4 linked regions of the Homo sapiens genome follow. The protein of the gene in region 1 binds, or shares a complex with, the protein of each later gene. Each region holds a gene or a part of one and is shown in the gene's direction. Other genes may lie near its edges.

Region 1 (7,023 bases):
CCTTTAACTGTTGGTTTTCTTGGGAGAATCTCAAGATTTGAAAATCATTGTAGAACTTTTTGAGGCTTTTCATTAAACATTTAAAAATTCTTGTCTCACTTCAGATAATGTTCAGATATGACAACAAGGTCTTACAGGAATTTTTTAAGTCTTCATAAATTCTTTTTGAGAGTAGTCACACCCATTTTTGTAATAGCAGGAAGGCATCTTGGCTGGGCACAGTGGCTTGTGCCTGTAATCCCAACACTTTGGGAGGCTCAGGCAGGAGGATTGCTTGAGGTCAGGAGTTCAAGACTAGCCTGACTAATATAGTGAGACCCCATCTTTATTTAAAAATAATAATAAATTTTTAAAAATTAAAAGAAAAGCATCTTGTATAGACCTTTTTTTGTACGTAAGCTTTTTTCCACTCTTATTCTTTTTTAGTGACAAAACATAAAGGTACTGAGAAAAGAGAATCCCCTTCACCAGCACCGAAGCCTAGAAAAGTAGAGTTATCTGAATCGGGTAAGTTTGTTGTTTTTTTTTGTGATTTTGGTTTGTTTGTTTTTGTTTTTCTTAAAGCTGATTTTGATTTTTTGCACATTTGGTCATCCCCTTCTGCTTGAAGATTAAGTATAGGGTAAGAGCTAAGACTCTGAAGGCAGACAGACTTGGGTGGAATCCCCCATTCCAGAATTTAACTGTTTCTGTTTTAATTAACTTATCTGAGCCTTTCTTCTTTCATCTCCGAAATAGGGACAGTAGAGGTTTTTGACAGTTAACTGTATCTGCTTGTAAAATGCTTGGCACCAGCCTGACCTGTAGTAAATGCCTAAATAAATTTTATTATATTTGGTGAAGATAGTCTAAATCAGCCTGTGAATTGGCATTTTAAACTCTTTTTAAAAAAAATATATAGTAGTTGTATTTTTGATCCAACCAAATGAAGGTTTGAGAGACTATTTTCCTATTCAAATTGCAAATTTTCTATATGCTTAACTAAAGAAACACTTTCTAAATGCATCCATCTTTCAGAAGAAGATAAAGGTGGCAAAATGGCTGCAGCAGATTCTGTGCAGCAGAGACGCCAATACAGACGACAAAACCAGCAGTCTTCATCTGGTATGGATGGTGATGAAAGTTTTTTTTCTACCTGTATTTCCTATTAAAAAATACTTGGTATATAAACATCTGTGTGTGCAGCATGAGTACTTACTTGCCTACATAGAAATCTGTCTGAGGAGGCAGGATTGTTTCTTTTTTTGGTTTTAAGTCCTTTTGCAAAATTTAATTTTCTGTTACATTGTTATAAAAGTAATAGGTCCCTAGGATACAATAGTGAAACAGAAAACAGAAGTATAAAATTGGAAACGTATCATTCTTTTTCCAACCTCCTAAAGCTTTTATTCAGAAATTTTCTGTGCATATAGAAAAAGGAAAAGAAAAAACCCCACAGAAGCTCAACTGTAGATATGTTGCCTCACTTTTTAACTTAACAGTATATTTAGAACATCTTTCCCTATTAAAAATCTAGACTGGGCGCAGTGGCTCACACCTGTAGTCCCAGCACTTTGGGAGGCCGAGGTGAGCAGGCCGAGATCAGGAGTTCAAGACCATCCTGGCCAATAGGGCGAAACCCCATCTCTACGAAAAATACAAAAATTAACCGGGCATAGTGGCGCACACCTGTAATCCCAGTTACTTGGGAGGCCCAGGCAGGAGAATCCCTTGAACCCAGGAGGCAGAGGTTGCAGTGAGTGAGCTGAGATCGCGCCACTGCACTCCAGCCTGGGAGCCTGGGCAACAGAGCAAGGCTTTGTTTCCACAAAAAAAATAATAATAATCTACCCTATTATTTTACTATTTGCATTTTTTATTGTAAGAATATACCAGGCTGGGTATGGTGGCTTAACCTGTAACCCCAACACTTTGGGAGGCTGAGGTAGATGGATCACTTGAGGTCAGGAGTTCGAGACCAGCCTGGCCAACATGGCAAAACCTTGTCTCAACTAAAAATACAAAGATTAGTTAGGCATGATGGTGCAGACCTGTAATCCCAGCTACTCAGGAGGCACAAGCGGTCTTTCTGCCTTGGCCTCCCAAATGCTGGGGTTAAAGGGGTGAGCCACCGTGCCCAGCTCAAACTTCTTAGAGTATGCCATCTTGATTGGATTACACTGTGGAAATTATTTCTATGTCTTATTTAAATAATATGCTTGGCTTTGAAATCATTGATCATATATTGATAATGATTCTGTTCAGAACTGATGGCCTGTATACATGCTTGCTTACCCTAGTGAACACTCCATCCACCTAGATTTCAGAAAACTTGGACAGATTCAAGCACAAACCTAATGTAATATTTTTTTAATTTTGTAATTATAGACTCTGGCTCCTCCTCCTCCTCAGAAGATGAACGACCCAAGAGATCCCATGTGAAGAATGGTGAGGTTGGCAGGCGGCGGAGACATTCCCCTTCCCGGAGTGCTTCTCCATCACCACGAAAGCGCCAAAAAGAGACTTCCCCTCGGTAACATCTTTGCTTCAGTGATGTTCACTGATGTTCTGTAATTGTGATGAAATTTGATAACTTGGGATTATTTGAGAATTTGGTTAACTCCTTCAAGTATTTGGATGTGGTTGGATTTTTGTTTGCTTTTTAGGGTTTCTGTTTTGTTTTGTTTTTGCTTTATTGGTGGTTATTAATAATTAATTTAGAATTGGTAAATTTTAAACCACCATGTCATATATGTGTGCATGATTAGAAAAATAAACCAAACTATTATAGCAGTAACTCCTGAACATCTTTGAATATTTAAAAATGTCTCCATTAATGGTACTTAATCCACCCAAGTAAATAATTTAGTGAATGGAATTCTTGACATTTGTTTTTCTCCACTGCTCTCAGGATGCAGATGGGAAAGCGATGGCAATCGCCAGTGACTAAAAGGTTGGTTAGACACTACTTTGTAAATTAGGGTTACATGTCAAAAATTGTAGTGACTTAATTTCCTATTTAGGTGACCTCATCTCATTCTTAAATATATGGTGGCTGTGGCTGTGAATGTGCAGATCCTAAGTTGTTTTGGTTTGAGTATTTTTTTTAACACATTAGATTAATGATAGGGAGAATTATACATGAGCTATTTGGTTTAGACCCTTATTTGAACTTAGATTTTTAATATCTGGTTGTGCTCTTTTGTGATAATTTGCATCAACTTACATCAAGCAGCACGCAGATTTTTAACAGTATCTGGATACTTTTCCAGAGATAGGATTATTGCTCCTTAGATTTGGGGGGAGGGACTTTGTATTTGTGGTGACATTAGGGAGGGCAAGGAAAAACTAGGGAGAAACTTTAGAAATATTAAAAGTGAGAGGATCACGAGGTCAGGAGATCAAGACCATCCTGGCCAACATGGTGAAACCCCATTTCTACTAAAAATACAAAAATTAGCTGGGAGTGTTGGCGCGTGCCTGTAATCCCAGCTACTCGGAAGGCTGAGGCAGGAGAATCGCTTGAACCCAGGAGGCGGAGGTTGCAATGAGCTGAGATCACGCCACTGTACTCCAGCCTGGCAACAGAGCTAAATTCCCTCTCAAAAATAATAATAATAATAATAATAATAATAATAATAATAAATAAAAGCGAATGGAAGGCTTTGGCCCTGTTCAGTCTTTCCAGTACTAGAAAGGTGGGTTGCATAGCTCTCTTTTTTTTTTTTTTTTTTTTTTTGTTGAGATGGAGTCTGGCTCTATCACCCAGGCTGGGGTGCATTGGTGCGACCTCGGCTCACTGCAACTTCTGCTTTGTAGGTTCAAACGATTCTCCTGCCTCAGCCTCCTGAGTAGCTGGGACTACAGGCACATGCCACCATGCCCAGCTAATTTTTGTATTTTTAGTAGAGAAGGGATTTCGCCATGTTGGCCAGGATGGTCTCAAACTCCTAAAGTCAGGTGATCCACCCGCCTCGGCCTCCCAAAGTGTTGGGATTACAGGCATGAGCCACTGGGCCCGACCTGCATATCTTTATTGAAACTTTTGATTATTAGTGTCACTGTGACCATAAAACTGTAAAATTTTAGAGCCAAATCCCTAATTCAGGCCTTACTCTCATAAGTGAGAAGATAGCGGCCCTGATGGGGTAGTTTCTTAGGGCCGCAAAGTGACAAAGTTGGATCTTAGACCTATACATTTGGCATTACACTAGTCTGTCTTAACCAGCTTTCTGCTTTTGGGGCCTTAGCTGCCACTGAATTTTGAAGTATTTATCCTTGCTGAAGCTATCCCACTGTCCTTTTTGTAGCTCAGTTTTTGAAGCTGTGTTGTTTTAGGTAATCTCATCAATAAGAGTGTTTTCTTGGAAAGGAACCAGTGAGCAGTGTTTGTGATGGAGCAAAGCACGGGGTATTTACACTGTGGAGGAAACTGCTCCATGATAATAAAAGATAAAAACCTAAAAAAGATTAGTTTGGCTGCTAAAGCATTCCTTTCCCAGCTATAATTATCTCTGGCTTTTGTGAAGTTGCTAGCACAGCAACTAAACAATTGCTTTACAGAGTTAGATTAGTGGTGCAATTTCTTCTCTTTCATCTCCCCTTCCCTCCCCACCCCCCCACCAAATTATGGCACTACTTTCTGTTCTGGAAAGAGATTCCTCACAGCAGTAAAATCAACACTAATGTTTATTGCTCTACTCCAGGATGTTTTTGTTTTGTTTCTCGTCATTTAAAAAGTATTTTAAGTTATATACCAGCAGCTTCAAGTTTAATGCCATTAGAAATTGCCATCAGGTTCCTAGGATTTAGAGATGGAGGAAGGATTATTTGGAATTATGCTTCAGTATCGTATTTTAGAAGGGGAGATAGAGGCCGGGTGCGGTGGCTCATGCCTGTAATCTCAGCACTTTGGGAGGCTGAGTTGGGTGGATCACCTGAGATCAGACGTTTGAGACCAGCCTGGCCAACACGACGGAACCCCATCTCTACTAAAAATACAAAAAAGTTAGCCGGGCGTGGTGGCGCATGCCTGTAGTCCCAGCTACTCGGGAGGCTCAGGCAGGAGAATCGTTTGAATCCGGGAGGTGGAGGTTGCAGTGAGCCGATATCGTGCCATTGCACTCCAGCCTGGGCAACAAGAGCAAAACTCCGTCTCAAAAAAAAAAAAAGAGGCTCACGCCTGTAATCCCAGCACTTTGGGAGGCCGAGGCGGGTGGTTCACGAGGTCAGGAGATAAAGACCATCCTGGCTAACACGGTGAAACCCCGTCTCTACTAAAAATACAAAAAATTAGCTGGGTGTGGTGGCGGGCACCTGTAGTCCCAGCTACTTGGGAGGCTGAGGCAGGAGAATGGTGTGAACCCAGGAGGCAGAGCTTGCAGTAAGCCCAGATCGTGCCAGTGCACTCCAGCCTGGGCAACAGAGCGAGACTCTGTCTCAAGAAAAGAAGGGGAGATAGAGCCTGGTTTTGAATATTTTATATGTATTTAGTGTGAGGTCTTAGTCCCCACAAAGCATAAGCAGATTTAAGTTGAAAAATTTAGTGGTGACTTTTAGGATTTTGTCTGTTCAGTTAACAGAGATTTCTTAGTTTCTAACGGGAACCAAGACAAAACATAATTCCAGATTCACAGGAAGCATGAGTCCTGTCCTGGGCAAAAAAAATTAAGAGCTTGGAGCAGAGACGTCCAGACTTGGGTCTTAAGCCACTTGTGACTATTGGCATTTTTGAATTTCTGTATTAGAGTCTCTAAAGCAGTTGATTCCTAATAAGGAATTAGAATCACCTGGAGAGCCTTTCCCAAAAACACCTGGCTGGACCTTAGCCCAGACCTGGTAGGCATAAATCTCACATAAGCTTCCTAGGTGGTTCTAATGTGCATCCCCAATAAAAAGCAGTGCTCTTATGTGCTGTTGCCGAACTTTTTCACTCTGTGTCATGTCAAGAATGTTTGGTATTGTGATCCAGAGTAAAAGAAAAATTTCACAAAACGGTACTTACCCTTGTCACAAGTAAAACACTCTGGTTTTATTAAGTTTTTTAATGCTGCCACCCAGGGTCTTGACTGATGATCTTGACCTGTAGTTTGAAAAACACTGTTCTGAAACTTAGTAACCATTGCTGCCCTTGGGGTTAATGATAATTGAAACCGTGTCTTCTGGGTCACTTAACTATAAATGCCACTGACTCAAAGTTAACTATATAGGCCAGGCGTGGTAACTCACACCTATAATCCCAGCACTTTGGGAGGCTGAGGCAGGCAGATCACCTGAGGTCAGGAGTTCAAGACCAGCTTGGCCAACATGGTGAAACTCCGTCTCTACAAAAATATTTTAAAAAATTAGCCAGGCATGATTATGGGTGCCTGTAATCCCAACTACTCAGGAGGCTGAGGGGGGAGAATTGCTTGAACCTGGGAGGCGGAGGTTGCAGTGAGCCAAGATCATGCCATTGCACTCCAGCCTGGGCGACAGAGTGAGACGCCATCACACACACACAAAAAAAAGAAAAAAAATTAACTATAATTCTTCTTGGTTTAGTGGTAGACGGAGGAGAAGTCCATCCCCACCACCCACCAGAAGGCGACGGTCTCCTTCTCCCGCCCCTCCTCCTCGACGGCGCAGGACTCCCACACCACCACCACGACGAAGGTACTTTGTCAAATATGCTAACTGGAGCATCTCCCCAACTCCCCCCGCCCCTGATAACATCAGATGAGTAATGGTGCTCACTTCCTAACAAGGTTGGAGAGAGGCACAGCTCATGTGTGCATGTGAAAACCCAATCATCATGCTTATGAACTACAAAAGGATCTCTGAATCTTTCTGATGATTATATCTTATTAGAGTAAGCAGACTAGCATTGTTCAGCCAGTCATAAAAGAACACGTATGATTCCATCTATATGAAAAGTCTAGAATACACAAATCTATAGAGATAGAAAACAGATTAGGGTGGGGTGGACATGGGGATGGTAATAGCTGCAGAACTATATGAATATACTAAAATCATTTAATTGTATACTTTAAATGGACCTTAAAT
Region 2 (7,697 bases), about 180 Mb from region 1:
CTTATCTGAGATCTGGCCCTGCTGGCTCCACTGAGTTATTTTGAAGTAAATCTCAAGCATAGTATACCTTGCTTTTTTTTTCATCATGTATATTGGATATCGTTTCATATCGGGACACAAAGACCTTTAATCTTAGTAACAGTTGCATAGAATTGCACCCTATGAAGATGCAGTAATTTATAATAGTCCCTATTGATAGACATTTAGGTTGCTTCCCATCTTGGTATTTTAAACAATGTTGTGATGATTACATTATACCACACATGTAAGTTTGTATGGAGGATAAGTACCTAGAAATAGAGCTTAATAATTTACAGTACCACTATTTTTTCATTTCCAATCTAATAAGAGAAATAGTACTTCAGTGTAGTTTGGTGTGCCTTTCTTTTTTTTCTTTTGTGACAGACATTCTGAATGTAGCCTTTCTGTTATGAGTGAAGCTGGGCATCTTTTCATGTTTAAAGACCACTCCTATATCCTTTGCTACAAACTGATGCTCACATCCATTGCCAATTTTAATTTTGAGTCTTTTTTTGTTTTGAGACGGAGTCTTGCTCTGTCACCCAGGCTGGAGCGCAATGGCGTGATCTCCACTCACTGCAACCTCCGCCTCCTGGGTTCAAGCAATTCTGCCTCAGCCTCCCGAGTAGCTGGGATCACAGGCGCCCGCCACCACACCCAGTTAATTTTTGTATTTTTAGTAGAGATGGGGTTTCGCCATGTTGGCCAGGCTGGTCTTGAACTCCTGACCTCAGGTAATCCGCTGGCCTCAGCCTCCCAAAGTGCTGGGATTACAAGAGTGAGCCACCGTGCCCGGCCCAGGCTTGGCTTTTAAAAGTGCTGGTAGAGCAGCTGGGCGCAGTGGTTCACACCTGTAATCCCAGCACTTTGGGAGGCCAAGGCAGGTGGATCAAGAGGTCAGGAGATCAAGACCATCCTGGCCAACATGGTGAAACCCTGTCTCTACTAAAAATACAAAAATTAGCCGGGCGTGGTGGCACATGCCTGTAATCCCTGCTACTCGGGAGCCTGAGGCAGGAGAATCGCTTGAAGCCAGGAATCGGAGGTTGCAGTGAGCCAAGATTGTGCCACTGCACTCCAGCCTGGTGACAGAATGAGACTCCGTCTCAAAAAAAAAAAAAAAAAAAAAAGTGCTGGTAGCTTCAACCTTGGTTTCCTAGACCCCTAATCCCCCATATAAGAAAGCATACCACCCTTCTAGAGAAACCGTGTGGTGAGGGCTGAGACTACATAGAGATAGGGACCCAGCTGAGGCCAGTCTTCCAAAGATACACACCAAAGCCGTAGATATGTCTTGTGGAGCAGAAGAATCACTCAGCTGAGAACCTGCCCAAATTCCTGACCCATGAAGTCATGAATTATAACAAAATGGTTGTTGTTTTAAGCTACTAAGTTTTGGAATATTTCTTACACATCAGTAAAGACCAGAATAGCATTCTTTTTCAGGAACTCTACATATTAGTAAAATTAATCATTTTTCAGATGTAATGCAAACATATTTTTCCTAGATGTTTTGACTTTGTTTATTGTTTCCCTTTTTAGTCATGCATAATTTTATTTTTATGTAGTTGCATTTATCATTCTTTTTTTCCCCTAAAAACCAGCTAGAGCATACAATTGAGGAAAAGATAGAATTTTTAAGAAGAAGAGAGATGAAATAGCTAAGGTTGAACTTAAGAAATCACAAGGTCTATATGAAGACAACCAAAAACTTTTGAAAGATTCAAAGGAAAGTTTGAACAAATAAAAAGACATCATGTACTTGGATTTAAAAAAGTAATCCTGGCCAGGTTCAGCTAACACGTGTAATCCTAGCACTTTGGGAGGCCAAGGCAGGAGAATCACTTGAGGCCGGGAGTTCAAGACCAGCCTGGTCAATATAGCAAAACCCCGTCTCTACTAAAAATACAAAAAGTTAGCCAGGTGTGGTGGTGCACACCTGTGGTCCTAGCTATTCCAGAGGCTGAGGTGGGAGGATCGCATGAGCCCTGGTGGGGAGGTTGTAGTGAGCCGAGATTGTACCACTGCATGTCAGCCTGTGCCATATCAGGAGATCCTGTCTAAAAAGAAGGTGGGGGAGGGCGGTGGGGAAAAATAAATAAACACGCTGTCTTAAAGTCAGACAACATGACACTCTGTTGGGTTTGGGTGGGGGAATGATTTTTTTAAAGACTGGGTCTCACTATGTTGCCCAGGCTGGAGTGTAGTGGCTATTTATAGGTGCCATTACAGCTCACTGCACTCTTGAACTAGGCTCAAGCAGTCCTACTACGTCAGCCTCCCCTAGTTCTTGGGAATACAGGCCATGCCACAAAACCCAGCTAGGGAATCTTTTTTTTTTTTTTTTTTTTTTGACAGGGCCTGGCTCTGTTGCTCAGGCTGGAGTGCAGTGGCATGATCTCTGCTCACTGCAACCTCTGCCTCCCGGGTTCAAGAGATTCTCCTGCTTCAGCTTCCAGAGTAGCTGGGACTACAGGCAGGCACCATCAGGCTCGGCTAATTTTTAAATTTTTTGGTAGAGCCAAGGTCTCATTATGTTGCTCAGGCTGGTCTTGAACTCCTGGGTTCGAGCAAGCCTCCTGCTTCTGCTTCTCAAAATGCTGGGATTACAGGCATGAGCTCGCGCACCTGGCTGAAATTTTTTTTTTTTTTTCTTTGAGACAGAGTCTTGCTCTGTCACCCAGGCTGGAGTGCAGTGGCGCGATCTCGGCTCACTGCAACCTCTGCCTCCCAGATTCAAGCAATTCTCCTGCCTCAGCCTCCTGAGTAGATGGGACTACAGGCGCCTACCACTACGCCCAGCTAATTTTTGTATTTTTAATAGAGACGGGGTTTCACCATATTGGCCAGGCTGGTCTCAAACTCCTGACCTTGTGATCTGCCTGCCTCAGCCTCCCAAAGTGCTGGGATTTACAGGCATGAGCCACTGTGCCCAGCCCTGGCTGAAATTTTTTAAAGGAAATAGTTATCCCATGCATTTGCCAGCTTTGTGTAGTTTATTTATTTATTTATTCTTATTTATTTTTTTGAGACGGAGTCTCGCTCCGTCACCAAGGCTGGAGTGCAGTGGCATGATCTCGGCTCACTGCAACCTCTGCCTCCTGGGTTCAAGTGATTCTCCTGTCTCAGTCTCCCAAGTAGCTGGGATTACAGGCATGTGCTACCATGCATGGCTAATTTTTGTATTTTTAGTAGAGACAAGGTTTCACCATGTTGCCCAGGCTGGTCTCGAACTCCTGACCTCAGTTGATCCACCTGCCTCGGCCTCCCAAAATGCTGGGATTACAGGCGTGAGCCTGGCCGCTTTGTGTAGTTTAAAAATCACTTTCAACTCAACCCCTTTCTGAAGTCGTTATTACTATTATCCCCATTAAACAGAAGCCCTCAGAAAAGCTAATTTTGATTCTGCCATTTGCCCTAATCCGTGTTCCCTTAGGCAAGTCCTTTCAAAAGTCTAAACTTCAGTTTCCTCCTCTATAACATGTGTATGCCAATTAAGTGAAATCTCTGCCAGGCCACAAGCCATGACACAATGGAAAGGTAGGTGGACTTTGGGGTCAGGCACACCTACAAATTCCAGCTGCTCCACTTAGTAGCTGTGTTATCCAGGGAAGGACATGTTCTGACACTGGCTGACGCCTAACTGTGTGCACACATAGACAATTATTTCATTGAATCTTTAAGCCCCTGAGTAAAGTTAATCTTTACTATAATCTCCGTTTTGGAAACTAAGCCAAGACATGGCGAGGCTGAGTAATTTATCCTTGGTCACCAACTCTAAAAGAGCTGGATTTGCGCCCAGCATGTGGATTTCAGCGTCTTCCTGGTAAATCGCCACCCTCAGTTGCCACCTGAACAGTAACTCTCCACGAAATGGATGAGAATTGAATCCGTAACTGGAGGGAACCAGGCGTCTGGCTTTGGAATGCAGACCGCCTCTGGCCGACTGCCAGAGGTGGGAGGCCTGAAGTTTGGGCTCCTTGCCGCCCTACCCTTTCCACCACAACGCTGCTATCAAGCCTAAACTCCAGCAAAATAGGCTTTAGGAAAGGCACGAAATTAACTCATTTTACACATAGAGATACACACTGGGACGATTTTGGCTTTTCAAGCTAACTCAGAAAATGGAGATACAGGCCGGGCGCGGTGGCTTACGCCTGTAATCCCAGCACTTTGGGAGGCCGAGGCGGGCGGATCATGAGGTCAGGAGATCGAGACCATCCTGGCCAACATGGTGAAACCCCGTCTCTACTAAAAACACAAAAAATTAGTCGGACGTGGTGGCAGGCGCCTGTAGTCCCAGCTACTCGGGAGGCTGAGGCAGGAGAATCGCTTGAACCCTGGAGGCTGAGGTTGCAGTGAGCTGAAATCGCGCCACTGCACTCCAGCCTGGGCGACAGAGCGAGACTTCGCCTCAAAAAAAAAAAAAGAAAAGAAATTGGAGACAGGACGGCACTCCTCCTACCACGGCCACTATACAACCGAAGGCACCTCCTCCCGCCTCCCTCCAGGTGGCGCTGTAGGACCGGCCCACCTTCCACAGCGCAGACGCCTCAGTTTGGCCTCCCTCGGAGGCCATGCAGCGAAGAAACGTGACTTCATGGCTAGAGGGGCATTTCCCAGGAGCCGCCCATGCCGCCGCGTGACCTTCACACTTCCGCTTCCGGTTCTTTATTCCGGAAGTTGCTCTCAGAGGCAGCGTGCGGGTGTGCTCTTTGTGAAATTCCACCATGGCGTACCGTGGCCAGGGTCAGAAAGTGCAGAAGGTTATGGTGCAGCCCATCGTATCCTACGCAGGATGTCAGGACTAGGAGGTTCGGGTCAGAATACGGGGTGCGAAGGCGCAGGCTGAGGGCAGGCCTGGGATAGTGGAGTACGGATCCACATCCCATGAGCCCCCGGGGCTACCAAGACTGGAAGAAAGCGCGGGTAGTTGAACCGTGATGGTGGGGAGGTGGTCTTGGGGGGACCCCTGCCGTGGGGAATGCAGGAATGGACGCGGCAAAAGGAGGGAAGAGAACTTCAGGTGCGGAGTGAAAACGGGAGTTAACGGTTTTGGGAAACTCCAGGGGGATGAAAGTGGAATGGATGTTCTTTAGTCTTTAGAAGACCCGTAACGAATGCCCAGCTGGGCACTTGTTGTTTGCGTAAGCACCAGACCTCGCGTTTAGTAAACAAAGGTGAGACGGGAATAGCGTCGTCCGGTTGTTTCAGGAAGCAGAGTCTATGCTGCTTTTGTATTTTTTCCTTAGCCACTGTGGTGCAGAACCTCATCTTCAGATACTTACAAAATGTACGTAAGTTGCTTGTTTCGTAACTACTTTTTAAATAAGAGGTGAACTGATTTAGTTTTTTGTGTTAACCTGAGCGATCGCTGTGTTCTAGAATTTAAAAATAGATGTAACTGGAGATTGGAGGGTAATTGAGGGGAAGGAGTACTTAGAAAGCACTAATGTGATGAAGTGGTGTGTATCCATGCCACTTCCCAACATGCAAAGAATTGTATCCATTACTTTGCAAGATCAAAAATACTTTTTAATTCCAAAAAGTATTATTAGCAGACTTGACCATGGTATTTGGGCATCAGTAGTTTTGTTAGTAGTGATTATGGCTAGAACATTGGAACCTCTCCCCTTTAGGATGAAACATTGGAAGAAAAACCCAGCCAACTTAAACCATGTCAAGAGGTGGTGTGTTTAATACCTGTGGGAAAACTTAAAGACGAAAAAAGGAAGAGAGAAGGGGTAGCTTCAGAGGAGTTTAGTGGCAGCTGCTTTCCTTTGAGGGAAATTTTAGCAACTTAAATTTTATAGTGTGATAACACAACTGAAAAACATTAATTTCAGGTGATAATAATTCTTAACCACCTGAATTGAGGGCTCCTGTCCTAGTTGTTAGGTGTGTGACATGAGAAGGCTTTGTTTTGGAACTGGATTTTGCTGCAGGAGATAAGCCCTTGGTCATTAGAAATTACTGCTTTGTGCTATGCTGTCAAAAACTTTCACTCTTAATAGATTGAGACCAGAAGCAGTAAGAAATATTGAGTCCCAAAATCACAGGAAAATTATTAGCTTATACAGTTCCAATATAGAACTTATTAAATGAAAATTCTTTTTGAGGTTATTATTATTGGTGAATAATTCTTAGATATGGGCTAATTAGTTAAAACTTTTGACTTACATTCATTACAATTTTTTTAGGAGCCATATTTCTCTTGTCGTTTGACCAAAATGGTTAGGTTTTGTATACTTCAATTTTTTGGGGGGCGGGGGGCGGGGAGATCTTGCTTAATGTTGCGCAGGCTTATATTGAACACCTGGCCACAAAGCGAATTATTCCGCTTTGGCATCCCAAAGTATGGGAACGGTGTGAATCGAGGCACCTGGCCTGTTTTTCTTTTCTTTTTTTTGAGACGGAGTCTCACTGTGCCCAGGCTGGAGTGCAGTGGCGCGATCTCAGCTCACTGCAACCTCTGCCTCCCGGGTTCAAGCGATTCTCCTGCTTCAGCGTCCCGAGTAGCTGGGACTACAGGCGTGCGCCACCACGCCCAGCTAATTTTTTTTGTATTTTTAGTAGAGATGGGGTTTCACCATGTTAACGAGGATGGTCTCTATCTCTTGACCTTGTGATCCACCTCCCTCGGCCTCCGAAAGTGCTGGGATTACAGGCGTGAGCCACCGCGCCCGGCCCTATTTTTCTTTTTTTAACGTTTCCACTTTTATGATTATTTCAGAGATCGCGGATTCAGGTGTGGCTCTATGAGCAAGTGAATATGCGGATAGAAGGCTGTATCATTGTGAGTATCCAGGCGATTTCATCTCATAGCAGTTCGGTCGTAGAAAAAGACTTAACAGAAAGTGTCTAGCCAGAACAGTGTATAAAAAGTCAAAGATCCAACCTAAGGAAAGTTTTTCAGGTGCTGCTGTTTAGCCTTTTTTCATTGTTGATAGATAAGGATTGGGTAGTTTTTAATAGGGAAAATAACTTTTAATTCATTTTCTTTCCTCTGTCTATGTTGAGAAGAAAATTTGTATTTGATTTTTGAGAAAGGGCTTTGTTCTGTTGCTTAGGCTGGAGTGCAGTGGCACAATCATGGCTCGTTGCAGCCTCAACCTCCCGGGCTCAAGTAGTCCTCCTGCCTCAGCCTCCCAAGTAGCTAGGATCAGAAGCGTGCACCATCACAGCCTGCTAAATTTTTATTTTTTATAGAGATGAGGTCTCACTGTGTTGCCCAGGCTGGTCTCAAACTCCTAGGCTCAAGTGATTCTCCCACCTCAGCCTCTCAAAGTCTTGGGATTACAGGCATGAGCCACAACGCCTGGCTGAAAATTAACTTTTAAAAATTATTCGAAAAAAAAATATTGAGCGACAATGTTAGTATGGAGAGGGGGGACAAAATAAATGAAATTAGGGAGGGTGGGGTTATTTGTTGTGGGTTAGGTGATACCTGAATAGAGAGCTCAGTGGGGTTAGTTAAATAAGGCTTCTGGGATAGCAGGCTACCCTAAATTTTTTTTTTTAAGTTGGGGTCCGGCTCTGTCACCCAGGTGCTCTCAGCTCACTGCAATCTTGAACTCCTTGGCTCAAGTGATTTTTCCACCTCAGCCTCTAGTAGCTGGGAACTATAGGCATACACCACCAGGTCCAGCTAATTTTTAAATATTTTGCTGGGCAAG
Region 3 (7,023 bases), on another chromosome or scaffold:
TTGGGCTCATATGATTGTCTGCCTCGATTTCCCAAAGTGCTGGGATTACACGCTTGAGCCACCGTGCCTGGCCTACGCTCTTAAAAATTACTGATGACCTCAAAAAGCTTTTGTTGATGTGGATTATATATATTGATATTTACCATATTATAAATTAAAACTCAGACATTTAAAAAGTATTTATTCATTCAAAAAAAAATAAACTAATTATGTTAACATAATTACTGTATATTTAAATGAAAAATAATTACATTTTCCAAGTGAAAAAACAGAAGGATGGCATTGATTTACATTTTTGCAAATCTCATTAATGTCTGACTTAATAATAGGTAACTTGACTCTGTATTTGTCTGTTGTGATTTGTTCAGTTGAAGTATAGAAAGAAAATTTAGCCTCACACATAGGTAGTTAGAAAGAGAAGGCATATTATATTTCTTAATGTTACACAAAAACTCAACAAGTGCTGGTTTCTTAAAGGTGAGCTATGTGGAACCTGAAACCAGATCAAAGAACTTTCCTTACTGTTATATTAATTTTTTTAATACTTTGAGTGGATCTTTTACCCATGCATGATTTTATAACATCATGCATTGGTCATTTGTAAAATATTGGTTTGCTGAGTTGTTCAGACCTTCCAAATGTTGACATATTTCCACTATACAATATCAGAAAATCACTTTTGTTAACATCACTTCCGGTCTTATCACAAAACTCTTTAAATAATGGGAAGTTAAAGAGTTCACAGTTTTTCAGAATTCTAATTTACACTTGAAAGTTTAAATGTTATCACTGGCATTTCCATTGCTTGAGCTATTTCCATTTAATAGCTTAATTTCTCTGCTGAGATTTCCCATCTGTTCATTATGAGATATTTTCCTCTTCTTGAAAATATTTGTGATATGTAATTGGTGCTTTGAAGTCCTTCCTGTCTGTTAATTGCAACATTGGATTCACCACAGGATTGGTTTCTATATTGGCAGCTTTTTCTTCAGTGTGTATTACATTTTCCTGTTTATTTACCTGTCTGGTCACTTTTTTAAATTGTTACTGGACATCATGAATGATATACTGTAGAGACTTTGAGTTCTGTTACACTGTATTGTCAGTTGTTTTCCTTCAGGTAAAGCTCACTTTGTACAATAGCTTTTTATAGATTCCATCAGATTTTGTACCTAGAGGGTCTTCCATCTTTGCATACAGTTTAATTTCTTACTTTACAATCTAGATGCTTTTTGTTTCTTTTCCTTGCCCTGTTGCATTAGCTAGCACTTCAGTGCAGATGTTGAATAGAAGTAGTGAGAGCAGACATCTTTGCTTTGTTCCTAATCTCAGGAAGAAAACATTTAGTTTTTACAACACATTTATTAAATGTGTTGTAGCTGTATAGGTTTTTTGTAGATATCCTTTATGGAGTTAAAGTTCCCTTCTATTCCTGTTTTGCTGAGAGTTTTGTTTTCAGGAATGTATGTTGGATTTTGTTCAAAATATTTTCTAATTATCCTTTTGGTTTATTCTTTGCTCCATGGGTTATTTAGGAGTGCATTAATTCCAAATATTTGGACTTTTCTAGATATCTTACTGCTATTTACTTATAATTTAATTCCATTTTGGTCAGATAATATACTGTAATATTTTGATCTTTTGAAATTTGTTGGCCAGGCACAGTGGCTCATGCCTGTAATCCCAACATTTTGGGAGCCCAAGGCAGACGGATTGCTTGAGCCTAGGAGTTTGAGACCAGCCTGGGCAACATGGCAAAACCCTGTCTCTACAAAAAAATACAAAAATTAGTCGGGCATGGTGGCACACGCCTATAGTCCCAGCTACTGTGGAGGCTGAGGTGGGAGGATCACTGAGCCCAGGGAGGTCGAGGCTGCAATGTGCTGTGATTGCACCACTGCACTCCAGCCTGGATGACAGAGTGAGACCATGTATCAAAAAACAATAATAAAAATGAAATTTGTTAAGGTGTGTTTTATGGCCCAGTGGATAGTCTATCTTCTGAATGTTTCCTTTGCACTTGAAGAGAACGTATATTCTGTAGCTATATAAGGTAGTGTTTTATAAAAGTCAGTGAGGTCAAGGTGTTTAGATCTTAGATCGCCTGTATTCTGGGTTTTTTGTGTTTGTATTTTTCTATCAGTTACTATCAATTGTGGATTTTTTGTTTTAGCTGGTTTATTTTGTTTTTCAACTCTAAAATTTCCATTTAATAGCTTACATTTCTCTGCTGAGATTTCCCATCTGTTCATTATGAGACATTTTCCTCTTCTTGAAAATATTTATGATATGTAATTAGTGCTTTGAAGTCCTGTCTGCTAATTGCAACATTGGATTCACCACAGGATTGGTTTCTATTGACAGCTTTTTCTTCAGTGTGTATTACATTTTCCTGTTTATTTACCTGTCTGGTCACTTTTTAAAATTGTTACTACGCATCATGAATGATACACTGTAGAGACTTTGAGTTCTGTTACACTGTATTCCTCTTAAGTGTGTTAGTTTTTATTCTAGCAGGTAGTTAACATAGCTGAACTCCAAACTGTCTCCTTTGCAGTGGACGGCAGCTACAATCTTTGCTCAGTTCTTTTAGTTTCTAGCTGCCATTTTTTTAATTGGCCTGATGGTATTTTCTCTGCACATGTGTCATTTAACAGTTAGCCAAGGATTTGACTAGGGTTTGTATGTAGATTTTGAGGTTCATCTCTTTTGTAGTTCCTTCTCTTCCAAGATTTCCCCCCTAATTTCCTAGCTGTTCTGCCCACTTTGCACTAATTCCTCAAGCCAGTAAGCCTGTGGCTTTCTGCCTTCATGAGCCATGCTGTTTGGGAAGTTGCCCTCCAGCAAATCTCTTTTCACATATAGACTTCATCCAGTTCATACTTACTTTTGGTCACTCTTCCACACCTTCAAATACCTATTTTTTTTGTTTTGTCTAGGTTTTATAGTTGCTAACTGAGGATAGGTTAGTCTGTTCGGGTTACTCTGCAATGTCTAGAATCTGTCTCCCCACCTTATATGGGCCTAAGGCGTTGTCTTCTGTCCCTCGGGGTGCCGTCAAAATCCAACAGCCAGGTGTGGTGGCGTGTGTCTGTAGTACCAGCTATTTGGGAGGCTGAGGCAGGAAGATCGCTTGAACCCAGGAGTTTAAGTCCAGGCTAGGCAACATAGTGAGACCCCAACTCCAGAATAAAAAAATTTAAGGCTCTTCTTTCTGATATTGGCAGATATCTATAAGTTGACTGTAGTTCCTCATCTTGGCAGATATCTTTAGGGTAGCTGTGGTTACAGGCTAGCTTACTAGTTCCGTTTGCAGTTCACTGTATGTAGGCTTTTTGGTAGAAGGAGGATTTTTCAGAACACTCATTTGCCATACATACAGCCAGAAGTAGATCTTTTTATAGCACAACCCTACAGATGTTCCCTGCTACCGAGTTTTTGTTTTTTGTTTTTTAATTTTTGGACCCAAAACTTAGAATTCTCCCTGACCTAGTTTTTTTTTACTAGTATTTAATTTGTCTTCATTTTTCTCAGTTGCTTTTTTCCACTTCTTGTTCTGATTTTATCCTAGATTTCTTCTCTTATTTCCCTTTGTCACCCTTGCTTTCTTTTTGTTATTCATCTTTCATCATCTTTTCTAGTTTTGTCTCTTTTCGGCCTGCTGCAAGGGAATATTTCCGGAACAGATATATAGTATCTGTTGGAAAAACCCATAAGATAATTACCCAGCCTCTCTTAATTGAAAGAGAAACGGGGCCGGGTGCGGTGGCTCATGCCTATAATCTCAGCACTTTGGGAGGCCGAGGCGGGCAGATCACGAGGTCAGGAGATTGAGACCATCCTGGCTAACATGGTGAAACCTCGTCTCTACTAAAAAAAATACAAAAAATTAGCTGGGCGTGGTGGCGGGCGCCTGTAGTCCCAGCTGCTCGGAAGGCTGAGGCAGGAGAATGGCGTGAACCCGGGAAGCGGAGCTTGCAGTGAGCCGAGATCGTGCCACTGCACTCCAGCCTGGGCAACAGAGCAAGACTCCGTCTCAAAAAAAAGAGAAACTGAGGCCCAATAAATAAGCAGTTTGCCTAGAGTCATGCAATTTCCCTGAGAAAGCTGGAATTAGAACTCTGCGTTCCTGATTCTCTGGTCCAAAGCTCTTTCCACTGTGAGTTCTCCTGCAATTTGTTTTCTGATTCTGCTTAGGATTTGGTGTTTGTTATTCATATGTCCTTTGTATTATCATATTAGTGTAACTCTCTTAAGACCTTATTTCCAAGGTAAAAAACAGTGGTTTCCTTGGTGCTTTGGAATACCATCCATGCTTCTAAGGTTGGAGAGGATGCCATTTATAATAAGCTTCCCTTCTTTTTTTTTTGAGACGGAATTTCGCTCTTGTTGCTCAGGCTGGAGTGCAAAATGGCACGATCTTGGCTCACTGGAACCTCCGCCTCCTAGGTTCAAGCAATTCTCTTGCCTCAGCCTCCCGAGTAGCTGGGATTACAGGCGTGAGCACCACGCCCAGCTAATTTTTGTATTTTTAGTAGAGACAGGGTTTCACCATGTTGGCCAGGCTGGTCTCGAACTTCTCATCTCAGGTGATTCACCTGCCTCGGCCTCCCAAAGTGCTGGGATTACAGGCGTGAGCCACCATGTCCGGCCAAGCTTCCCTTCTTAAAGCCCTCTGTTACTCACTCCACTCATCCCTTAAGGGAAAGTCTTAGCATACATGTTATAAGTGTAAGCAGCTAGGTAGTAGGTACTAGGGATTCCATGATTAAAGAGAGATAGCCCCTGAGCCCAGGAGCTCACTTTCAATCTAGAATAGAAGACAGACAGTTTCAACGCTGTTTGGTTAGTGTTACTATAGAAGATTTTCAAGATGTTTTGGGAGCACAAAGGAAGAGTAAGTTGAGCCTTAGGAGGATGTGAGTGATCAGGAAGTGCTTCCTAACGGATGAAATGTGGGAGCTGAGTTTTAAGGGATGTTGGTAACCAGCCAAGATAAGAAGGAAAGGAAGGATATTAAAGGAAGAGGGTCCTATATGTGCAGAGTCATAAGGCTATGAGACACCATGGTGTTACCAGGTGGTGGGGGTCCCTAAGTAATTTGCTGTTGTTGGATAGCATAAAGCGTGAGATGGATGAGAGAGGTTGGCAGACCGTGATCACAGAAGGCCCTGGAAGCCTATCTGAGGAGCTTGGTCTTCACCCTAGAGGTAAAGGGGAGACACGGAAGGATTAAAAACAGCTCTGCATTTTAGATAGACAAATCCATTATAGCAGTAATATGAAGGATTTGAAAGGTACAAGATTGGAAGTAGAACAGATACAAGGCTTTTGCAGTAGCTCAGGCTGAAAGTAATGAGTGTCTGAACTACGACTTGCAGGCAGTGGTAGTAAGGATGGTTAGTAAGAGAATAGGAAGTGGGGATGTGGTCAGGGGTGAGCTGGTGGGACCTGTTTGCTGATTTGGGGAAGAGGAAGGAGGAGTCATTGGATTTGGCAACAAGGAATGTCAGTGATGACCTGAAAGGGCTAGTTCCGTTGTGTAGTGAAACAATGGCCAGGTTCTAATGTATTAAGGAGTGAATGAAAAGTGAGGAAACAAATAGTGAATACAGGCTTTTTAAGAAGTTTAGATAAGAAGACCAAGAGAATGCATGGTAATTAAAGGGATTTGAGGTCCACTCACTACCTCCTTGAAATTCACCCCTGTATTGTTTTCCATGACACCCTACTCCTGGTTCTTTTCTCTGATCATTCTTGGCCACCTTTGCAAACTCCTCTTCCTCTGTGCACCTCTTAAGTCTTTCCCAGGGCTCCATCCATAATTTTTAGCTGTTCTCACTCTATGTGCTCCCTCTGGCTGATTCTTACCTAGTCATGTTTTCAACTATGACCTATATGTACATGATTTCCAAATCAGTATTTGCATCTTGGTCTGGTGTATTTAGCTGTTTGTTGGATTTCTCTATTGATTTAGACTTGAGAGATTTCAAATGCATTGTATTCAAAGCTGAACTCATCAGCTTCTACTGTAAGCCTGCTCCTACTCTTGTGCTCTCTAACTTGCCTCCTCCTTCTTTGTCCTTGTGTACCTAATCAATTAGTGCTGCTAATTAGTCTTACTAATTTTGCCTCCTGTGTCTTCTCTCTTCCGTCCCTCTTTATCATTGCCTTCATCATCTGTTGCCTGGACCATTGCAGTGATTTTCCTGCCCCAGATCCCCTCCAGAGTGATCTCTTTGAAATGCAGTTTAAGTTCTTGCTTTAAACCCATCGTTTCTGGATGAAATCTAAGCTTTTTACCATGGCCTACGCAGCTCATTATGCATTGGCCTCTGCGCCTTTCCAACTTTGACTCATGGCTGTTCCCTTTGTCATACTTCAGGTTCCAGCCATACCAGTTTGCCTTTGGTTTGCTGCACATACCAGGCCACTTCTTATTTCCGTGCCTTTGTTCTTGTTGCTCATTCTGTTCTGAAATGACCTCCAGACCCTTTCTGGCCCTTCCATCCCCAGTGCTGTAGTTAACACAGAGCCTTTACTGATCATTCTTGCCCAACCCTCATGTCACCTTTTTATCATACCTCCCCCAAGCTGATTAAGATACCCATTCTGTTTCCATGACACCCCATGCGTATTTCTACCAGAGTTTATGCTGTTCTTTTAATTTATTTGTTTAAATGTCTCTCTCTTCCACTAGTCTGGGAGTTCATCAGGACAGGTGCTGTGTCATACTCATTTTCATGTAGTGTCTACCATGGTACCTAGTATATAATGAAAATTCAATAAATGTTTGTGTAATGAATGGATAAAATATAAGATGTGGACATCAGCTGAGAGAGAACCAGGCTTTTAGAGTGGCAAACGTTTGAAATAGCTGTCAGAGTGGGGGAAGGGTGTGAACAAGGACTAAGAAAAGGATGAATGATATATTTTGTCCCTTTGATTCTATTGCATATGCCTTAAATATTTTCTTTTCTTTTTTGTTTCTTTCTTTCTTTTTTTTTTTTTTTTTTTTTGAGA
Region 4 (7,141 bases), about 130 Mb from region 1:
TGGCCAACATAGTGAAACCCCGTCTCTACTAAAAATACAAAAATTAGCCGGGCGTGGGGGTGCGCGCCTGTAATCCCAGCTACTTGGGAGGCTGAGGCAGGAGAATCACTTGAACCCAGGAGGCAGAGGTTGCAGTGAGCCGAGATCATGCCACTGCACTCCAGCCTGGGCGACAGTGTGAGACTCGATCTCATAAATAAATAAATAAATACCCCAAACAAAAAAAGAGTAAAAGCTGTGAACTATCTCCAGCTATGTCAGGCTGACTTACTTGACTGCTTTAAATCACACTAAACTTACTCTTTCTGAACTGATATGAGAGTATTGATCTTAACCATGGTAAAACCTCACCTAAAACAAACATCGGACTGTTCCATCCTGAATACTTTTCCAAATAACTGAAGTTTATCCAATTAAGTGCAAAATATCTTCATTTTGCTTCAAAGTAGAAATTGCTCAAAAAAGTACTATTCACTTCCTGTAGATTATACAGTGGAAAGAGCACCATTGAAAGTCATTGAGACTTAGCTAGATTCATCTCTGGAGTATGGCTTTGGATAAACTACTTATCTCTAAGTCTGATTCTGTCTTCTGTAAGTGGACATACTACCTTCCTGCCTACTTCTTAGGATCAAATAAGATCCTGTAGGTGAAACATTTTGCAAATTCAAAAGTGTTTTGCACATTTAAGATACCGTCATTTGGCCAGGGTACACAGTGACTCACTCCTGTAATCTCAGCACTTTGGGAGATTGAGGCAGGAGGTCTGTTTGAGTCCAGGAGTCCAAGGCTGCAGTGAGCAGTGTGAGCCACTGTACTCCAGCCTGGGCAAGATAGCAAGACCCTATCTCTAAAAAAAATTTGTGGCCAGGCGCAGTGGCTCACGCCTGTAATCCCAGCACTTTGGGAGGTCGAGGTGGGTGGATCACAAGGTCAGGAGTTCGAGACCAGCCTGGCCAATATGGTGAAACCCCATCTCTACTTAAAATACAAAAAAATTAGCTGGGCATGGTGGCACATGCCTGTAATCCCAGCTACTCGGGAGGCTAAGGCAGGAGAATTGCTTGAATCCGGGAGGTGGAGGTTGCAGTGAGCCGAGATCACGCCGCTGCACTCCAGCCTGGGTGACAGAGCGAGACTCCATCTCGAAAAAAAAATTGTTCTTGGCCAGGTGTGGTGGCTCATGCCTGTAATCCCAGCACTTTGGGAGGCTGAGGTGGGTGGATCACGATGTCAGGAGTTCAAGACCAGCCTGGCCAAGATGGTAGAAACCCCGTCTCTACTAAAAATACAAAAATTAGCCAGGCATGGCAGTGGGTGCTTGAAATCCCAGCTACTCAGGAGGCTGAGGCAGAGAATCAGTTGAACCCGGGAGGCAGAGGTTGCAGTGAGCCGAGATTGCACCACTGCACTCCACCCTGGGCGACAGAGTGAGACTCTGTCTCAATTGAAGAAAAAAAAAAAAATGAGAGAGAAAATAAAAGACTTCCCCATGAATGAAGTAAATGAACATTATAACATGTGACTCCTATGTTACTACCATTTTCCCCTCATATCCTGGTTCTTGGATATGTTTTGACTTTATTCTTTCAGCACATATTTATTGACCACAGTATGTGCCAAGCACTGTGTAGACACTAAAAGATAATCTGAGCTTAGTGGGTAGACAGTTAATAAAATCACAAATTACAGACGGGCGCTATGGCTCATGCCTGTAATCCCAGCACTTTGGGAGGCCAAGATGGGCAGATAGCCTGAGGCCAGGAGTTCGAGACCAGCCTGGCCAACATGGCGAAACCCTGTCTCTACTAAAAATTCAAAAATTAGTCAGGTGTGGTGGCAGTGTAATCCCAGCTGCTCAGGAGGCTGAGGCAGGAGAATCACTTGAACCTGGGAGGCAGAGGTTGCAGTGAGCTGAAATCGCATCACTGCACTCCAGCCTGGGTGACAGGGACAGAGCAAGACTCTGTCAAAAAAAAAAAGAAAGAAAGAGAGAGAGAGAGGAAGGAAGGGAGGGAGGGAGGGGAGTCTGAAGCTGGAGAGGAAAACAGGTAAAGACTAGGTAGCAGAATTCTGAATCCAGAAGTTATTATTGTATTTGCATCTTCTTATATTTTTATTCCCTTTATTCTTTTTCTTTTTTCTTTTCTTTTTTTGGAGACCGAGTCTCACTCTATCACCAGGCTGGAGGGCAGAGGCGCGATCTCGGCTCACTACAACCTCTGCCTCCCTGGTTCAAGCGAATCTCCTGCCTCAGCTTCCCGAGTAGCTGGGACTACAGGCATGTGCCATCATGCCCAGCTAATTTTTGTATTTTTAGTAGAGATGGGGTTTCACCATGTTAGCCAGGATGGTCTTGATCTCCTAACCTCGTGATCCGCCCACCTCGGTGTCCCAAAGTGCTGGGATTACAGGTGTGAGCCACCATGCCCAGCCGAGACAGGGTTTCACCACGTTGGCCAGGCTGGTCTCAAACTTCTGACCTCAGGTGATCCACCCACCTTGGCTTCCCAAAGTGCTGGGATTACAGTCATGAGCCACCGCGCCCGGCCTGGGGCAACTTTTTTAAAGTTTGCCATGATCTGATCTTTTTCCTTCTTCACTTATCTCTCAAACAACTTACATTCCAGACATAAATCACCACTTCCTGAGAACGTCCTGTATTTTGTTTTTTTCCTGCATGTGCTTATGCCGTCCCCATCATCTGGGACTTCTTCCCCATCTCTGGCTATTAAGTAGTTGAATCTATCTTTCCAAGTCTACCTCTTCAGCCCTATCATAATTAAGCTTCTTTACTCTCAAAATTATTTAAATCTCCATTAAAGTTAATGGCATTGTTTGACTAGTATTACTGTTCTTTATGTTTAAGCTTATTTCCCTCGCCAGATTCCCCATAAGATTCTTGATAGCAAGTGTTTTTGTCTCATTCAACAACTGTGACTTCCAGGATGGGTGCAGTGGCTCACGCCTGTAATCCCAACACTTTGGGAGACTAAGGTAGGAGGATTGCTTGAGCTTAGAAGTTCAGCCTGGGCAACATAGTTAGACCCTCCTCTCTACAAAAAAAAGGAAGGCTTGTGAGCCTCTGGTCCCAGCTACTTGGGAGGCTGAAGTAGGAAGAGCTCTTGAGCCCAGGAGGTCAAGGCTGCAGTCAGCTGTGATGATGCCACTGCACTGTGGCCTGGGCGACAGAGTGAGACCCTATCTCAAAAACAAAACAACAAACAAACAAACAAAACCCAATTGTGGCTTCCCCTCATTTTGTATCCCTTTAGCAGCTACAAAGTAGCTACTACAGTAGCCTACTCAGTAGGCCCTGCGGGGTGCGTTGGCTCACACCTGTAATCCCAGCACTCTGGAAGGCCAAGGTGGATCACCTGAGGTCAGGAGTTCAAGACGATCCTGGCCAACATGGTGAAACCGTCTCTACTAAAAATACAAAATAAGCCAGGCATGGTGGCACAGGCCTGTAATTTCAGCTACTTGGGAGGTTGAGGCAGGAGAATCACTTGAACCCGGGAGGCAGAGGTTGCAGTGAGCCGAGATCACCCCATTGCACTCCAGCCTGGGCAACAAGAGCAAAACTCTGTCTCAAAAAAAAAAAAAAAAAAAAAAAAAAAGGCAACTCAGTAGGCTTGTTCCTCTACGCTAGTGATTCAGTGCTGTGCTGGCACCTGCTGGTCACCTGTGGTGCAGCAGCCCTGGTCCCAGCACCTTCCTCCCTTCAGTATTAAGGGTTGTGACAGTCTGTGCTCTTACCTGGCAATCACTGGAATAATATATTAAATACTTGCCCCACAGCACCACCTTTCAATCTTCAGAACTTTTCCCACTGACCTCCTACCCCAGAAATTTGGGCTTTACATCCTTCCCAGTACTGTAGAAATGTAAGGACAGGATCTTCAGGAACTGGGCAGCAAGAAAAGAAAGAAGCAATTTGAGAGTGGAGGATGCAAATCCCTTTCCCCCCTTCAAAGAATTGAGACTATTTCCAACAGAATTCCACTCTTTTTGACCTTTGTCTTATTTCTAGGTTGCTCTTGGGCCATAGGCCTTCTTGGTGACAGAAGTGATGAACCGGAGGTTAAGCAGAGAGTAGGTAGGCGGGGCTCAAGGGGTGGGGCCAAGCCAAAGGGCTCTCACACTAAGTGAAGCTTCTCCATTCTGTAAGCTTTCCGGGAACATCCAAGGCAAGACTGGCACCCAGCACAGCAGGTGAGGGACCGGCAGTGACAGAATGGTAGACTTTAGGGGTAATGGTGGCAGAGGAATCTCTAGCTCTTTCAGTCTTAGCTTTTCATATTGTGAAACTCTCGCTTGTACAATTCTTGGGTCCTTTGTAGAGCTTAGCTTAGTTTTTCTGGTGGCAAGGCAGCCTCTGAAAGACCTGGTTTTGGATGCGGTGGGGGCAGGGCTGAGGGATGCAGGTGGATCCACATCCATATGGATGTGTGCGAAATGCAAGGAAATCTTAGGAAACAAGGAGATAGATGGGTAAGGGCCAGAGGGAGAGTATGGCCAGGCCAGAGGATCATAGGGAGGACCCAGACAAGAGAAAAAGGGAGACTGAAACAGGGAGAGAGGGAGAAGACAGCGGAATAAATGTGAGACGGCAATGGGGGCAATGGAGAGCTGGGTAACAGGAAGGCCAAGGAGGAAGGAAGGCTCACATGGAGCAATCTCCTCTTCCGGCTGGGGAGCATGGTCCAGAAAGCCCCAAGGCAAGCTGGGAGCAAAGCAAGGTTCAGGTTTCCACTGGAAGGATTCAGCTGGGGAAAAAAACCCCCACAGTCTCCACCTCCTCTGCCTCTTCAGACTCCCATTTTGGTTTGGGGGAGAGGGCGAGGCTGCTCCTCACTGCGGTCACAGCCACATCCTGCAGAGCAGAGGAGGGGGAAGTAAGAAGCAAAACAACCAGAAGAACCACAGGCGAAGACCATGGGGAGAGAACCCTGGACACATGGAGCTGATATGCCACCAAGAGGGTCCTGAGTTCAGTGTAGCAGAAGGCTCAGACCTTCAGGACTGCCTGCCCTTCTTGAGGTGTTGGCTTCTCGTGCTTCCTCAGTGTGCTTTAACCACACTGGGAGCATTCCGGGGAAGGAGGTTTCTCTGGATTATTTGGTTTGAAGCCCATCTTTATAATTTACTAGTGACTTTGGCCAAATTGCTATATTTCTCTTCGCTTCAGTTTTCTCATTGCAAAATGGGGATACCTACCCTAACCTTACACAGGATTGGGAAGGCTAAGATGACTGACGTAAAGCACTTGCATATAGTAGGTTCTCAGTAAATGTTAGTTATTACTCCTATTAGGATTCCTGGGATGCTTATGCTTCTTACTTTAAAGGAAGTATAGTGCACTAGCTGCCACTGGCTTTGGGGGCCAAAAAATGAGTTGCGTTTGATCTTGGGTAAATTACTTAATGTAAGTATCATTTGCTTAGCTGTAAAACAAGGATGGTAATATCTATGCCACACAGACATATGGCACAGAGTCAGTGTCCAAAAATGGTAGCTGTAAGAATTCTGTCAGGCTGGGCGTGGTGGCTCACGCCTGTATTCCCGGCACTTTGGGAGGCCGAGGTGGGCAGATCATGAGGTCAGGAGTTCGAGACCAGTCTGGCCAACATGGTGAAACGCTGTCTCTACTAAAAATACAAAAATTAGCCGGGCGTGGTGGTGGGTGCCTGTAATCCCAACTACTTGGGAAGCTGAGGCAGGAGAATAGCTTGAACCCGGGAGGTGGAGGTTGCAGTGAACAGAGATCACACCACTGCACTCCAGCCTGGGTGACAAAGCAAGACTCCGTCTCAAAAAAAAAAAAAAAAAGAATTATCTGTCAGGTAAGCCCTGTCTTCACTGCAGCAGCAACAGCCTACTTCCCCTTGAGATGTAACTTGTGCTAGGCTAGCCTCCCGTGTGCCCACATTCCTCCAGCCGGGGCTATCGCCACTCCCGTGGGCTGTTTTGGAGTCAAGATTTGCTACAGCACTAAGGGGAAAAAGCAGGCAGGAGCAAGGCATAGAGGACTGAGGGGCCCCAGGGGGCGGAGAGGATGACAAACAAAGATGATGATGACATGGAAACTAAAGAAGCAACAGAAAAGGGAAAAGCCATTTCTCTCTTTCTAAGGAAGCCTGTGGCCTTTCTTCTAGTGACTGACCACATACCCCACTCTCCAGGACCCATGGAGTCCTTCAGCTCAAAGAGCCTGGCACTGCAAGCAGAGAAGAAGCTACTGAGTAAGATGGCGGGTCGCTCTGTGGCTCATCTCTTCATAGATGAGACAAGCAGTGAGGTGCTAGATGAGCTCTACCGTGTGTCCAAGGAGTACACGCACAGCCGGCCCCAGGCCCAGCGCGTGATCAAGGACCTGATCAAAGTGGCCATCAAGGTGGCTGTGCTGCACCGCAATGGCTCCTTTGGCCCCAGTGAGCTGGCCCTGGCTACCCGCTTTCGCCAGAAGCTGCGGCAGGGTGCCATGACGGCACTTAGCTTTGGTGAGGTAGACTTCACCTTCGAGGCTGCTGTTCTGGCTGGCCTGCTGACCGAGTGCCGGGATGTGCTGCTAGAGTTGGTGGAACACCACCTCACGCCCAAGTCACATGGCCGCATCCGCCACGTGTTTGATCACTTCTCTGACCCAGGTCTGCTCACGGCCCTCTATGGGCCTGACTTCACTCAGCACCTTGGCAAGATCTGTGACGGACTCAGGAAGCTGCTAGACGAAGGGAAGCTCTGAGAGCCCTGAGCCTAGCACATTCCACCTTGACAAAATGGTTGACTGAGAAAACACAGATAATGGGCTTCCTAACCCTGCTCACCTGGCACTAACACTTTTCAATCTTCAGGCTTCATTCCTTCCCAAGAGTGCTTTTGACTCTGAGACCAGCCCACCCCCAAACAGCTAGTGGAGAAGGAGCAATGCTGAGGGGTGAGGCCTCTCTCCCACTCCAGCCCCAGGACAGGAAACAGAACTGCCTGAAAAAGGTGAAGTGAAACTTGGATCTCTATTTCTCCCATAAGGGACTTCTGAAACAGGGAAGCCCCCTCCCATGTGAACCAAGGAAAGGAGGCACAGCCCAGAGAACCCCTTTGGGGATACTAAAGACAGAAGAGGGGAAGGTGGCCCTTAGAG

Evidence for each region.
Region 2: SRRM1 (region 1) and SNRPE share a complex: the UniProt entries of both Homo sapiens proteins name them as parts of the minor spliceosome.
Region 3: SRRM1 (region 1) and BUD13 share a complex: the UniProt entries of both Homo sapiens proteins name them as parts of the minor spliceosome.
Region 4: SRRM1 (region 1) and TNFAIP8L2-SCNM1 share a complex: the UniProt entries of both Homo sapiens proteins name them as parts of the minor spliceosome.

Annotation. Positions count from the first base shown.
Region 1 is NC_000001.11:24,660,293-24,667,315, forward strand, and holds part of SRRM1 (serine/arginine repetitive matrix protein 1), read left to right. Parts: intron 1-426; coding exon 427-507; intron 508-1,017; coding exon 1,018-1,104; intron 1,105-2,367; coding exon 2,368-2,512; intron 2,513-2,890; coding exon of another isoform or gene 2,891-2,932; intron 2,933-6,522; coding exon 6,523-6,633; intron 6,634-6,690; exon of another isoform or gene 6,691-6,795; intron 6,796-7,023. UniProt on the Homo sapiens protein: Part of pre- and post-splicing multiprotein mRNP complexes. As a component of the minor spliceosome, involved in the splicing of U12-type introns in pre-mRNAs. Involved in numerous pre-mRNA processing events.
Region 2 is NC_000001.11:203,856,909-203,864,605, forward strand, and holds the start of SNRPE (small nuclear ribonucleoprotein E), read left to right. Parts: upstream 1-4,690; 5' UTR 4,691-4,751; coding exon 4,752-4,805; exon of another isoform or gene 4,806-4,819; coding exon of another isoform or gene 4,820-4,835; intron 4,836-4,938; exon of another isoform or gene 4,939-5,005; coding exon of another isoform or gene 5,006-5,047; intron 5,048-5,273; coding exon of another isoform or gene 5,274-5,287; coding exon 5,288-5,314; intron 5,315-6,754; coding exon 6,755-6,817; intron 6,818-7,697. UniProt on the Homo sapiens protein: Plays a role in pre-mRNA splicing as a core component of the spliceosomal U1, U2, U4 and U5 small nuclear ribonucleoproteins (snRNPs), the building blocks of the spliceosome.
Region 3 is NC_000011.10:116,748,977-116,755,999, reverse strand, and holds part of BUD13 (BUD13 homolog), read left to right. Parts: intron 1-7,023. UniProt on the Homo sapiens protein: Involved in pre-mRNA splicing as component of the activated spliceosome. As a component of the minor spliceosome, involved in the splicing of U12-type introns in pre-mRNAs.
Region 4 is NC_000001.11:151,152,508-151,159,648, forward strand, and holds the start of TNFAIP8L2-SCNM1 (TNFAIP8L2-SCNM1 protein), read left to right. Parts: upstream 1-4,141; 5' UTR 4,142-4,215; intron 4,216-4,670; exon of another isoform or gene 4,671-4,876; intron 4,877-6,158; exon of another isoform or gene 6,159-6,190; coding exon of another isoform or gene 6,191-6,745; exon of another isoform or gene 6,746-7,141. Other genes in the region: TNFAIP8L2 (tumor necrosis factor alpha-induced protein 8-like protein 2), read left to right, coding at 6,191-6,745. UniProt on the Homo sapiens protein: As a component of the minor spliceosome, involved in the splicing of U12-type introns in pre-mRNAs. Plays a role in the regulation of primary cilia length and Hedgehog signaling.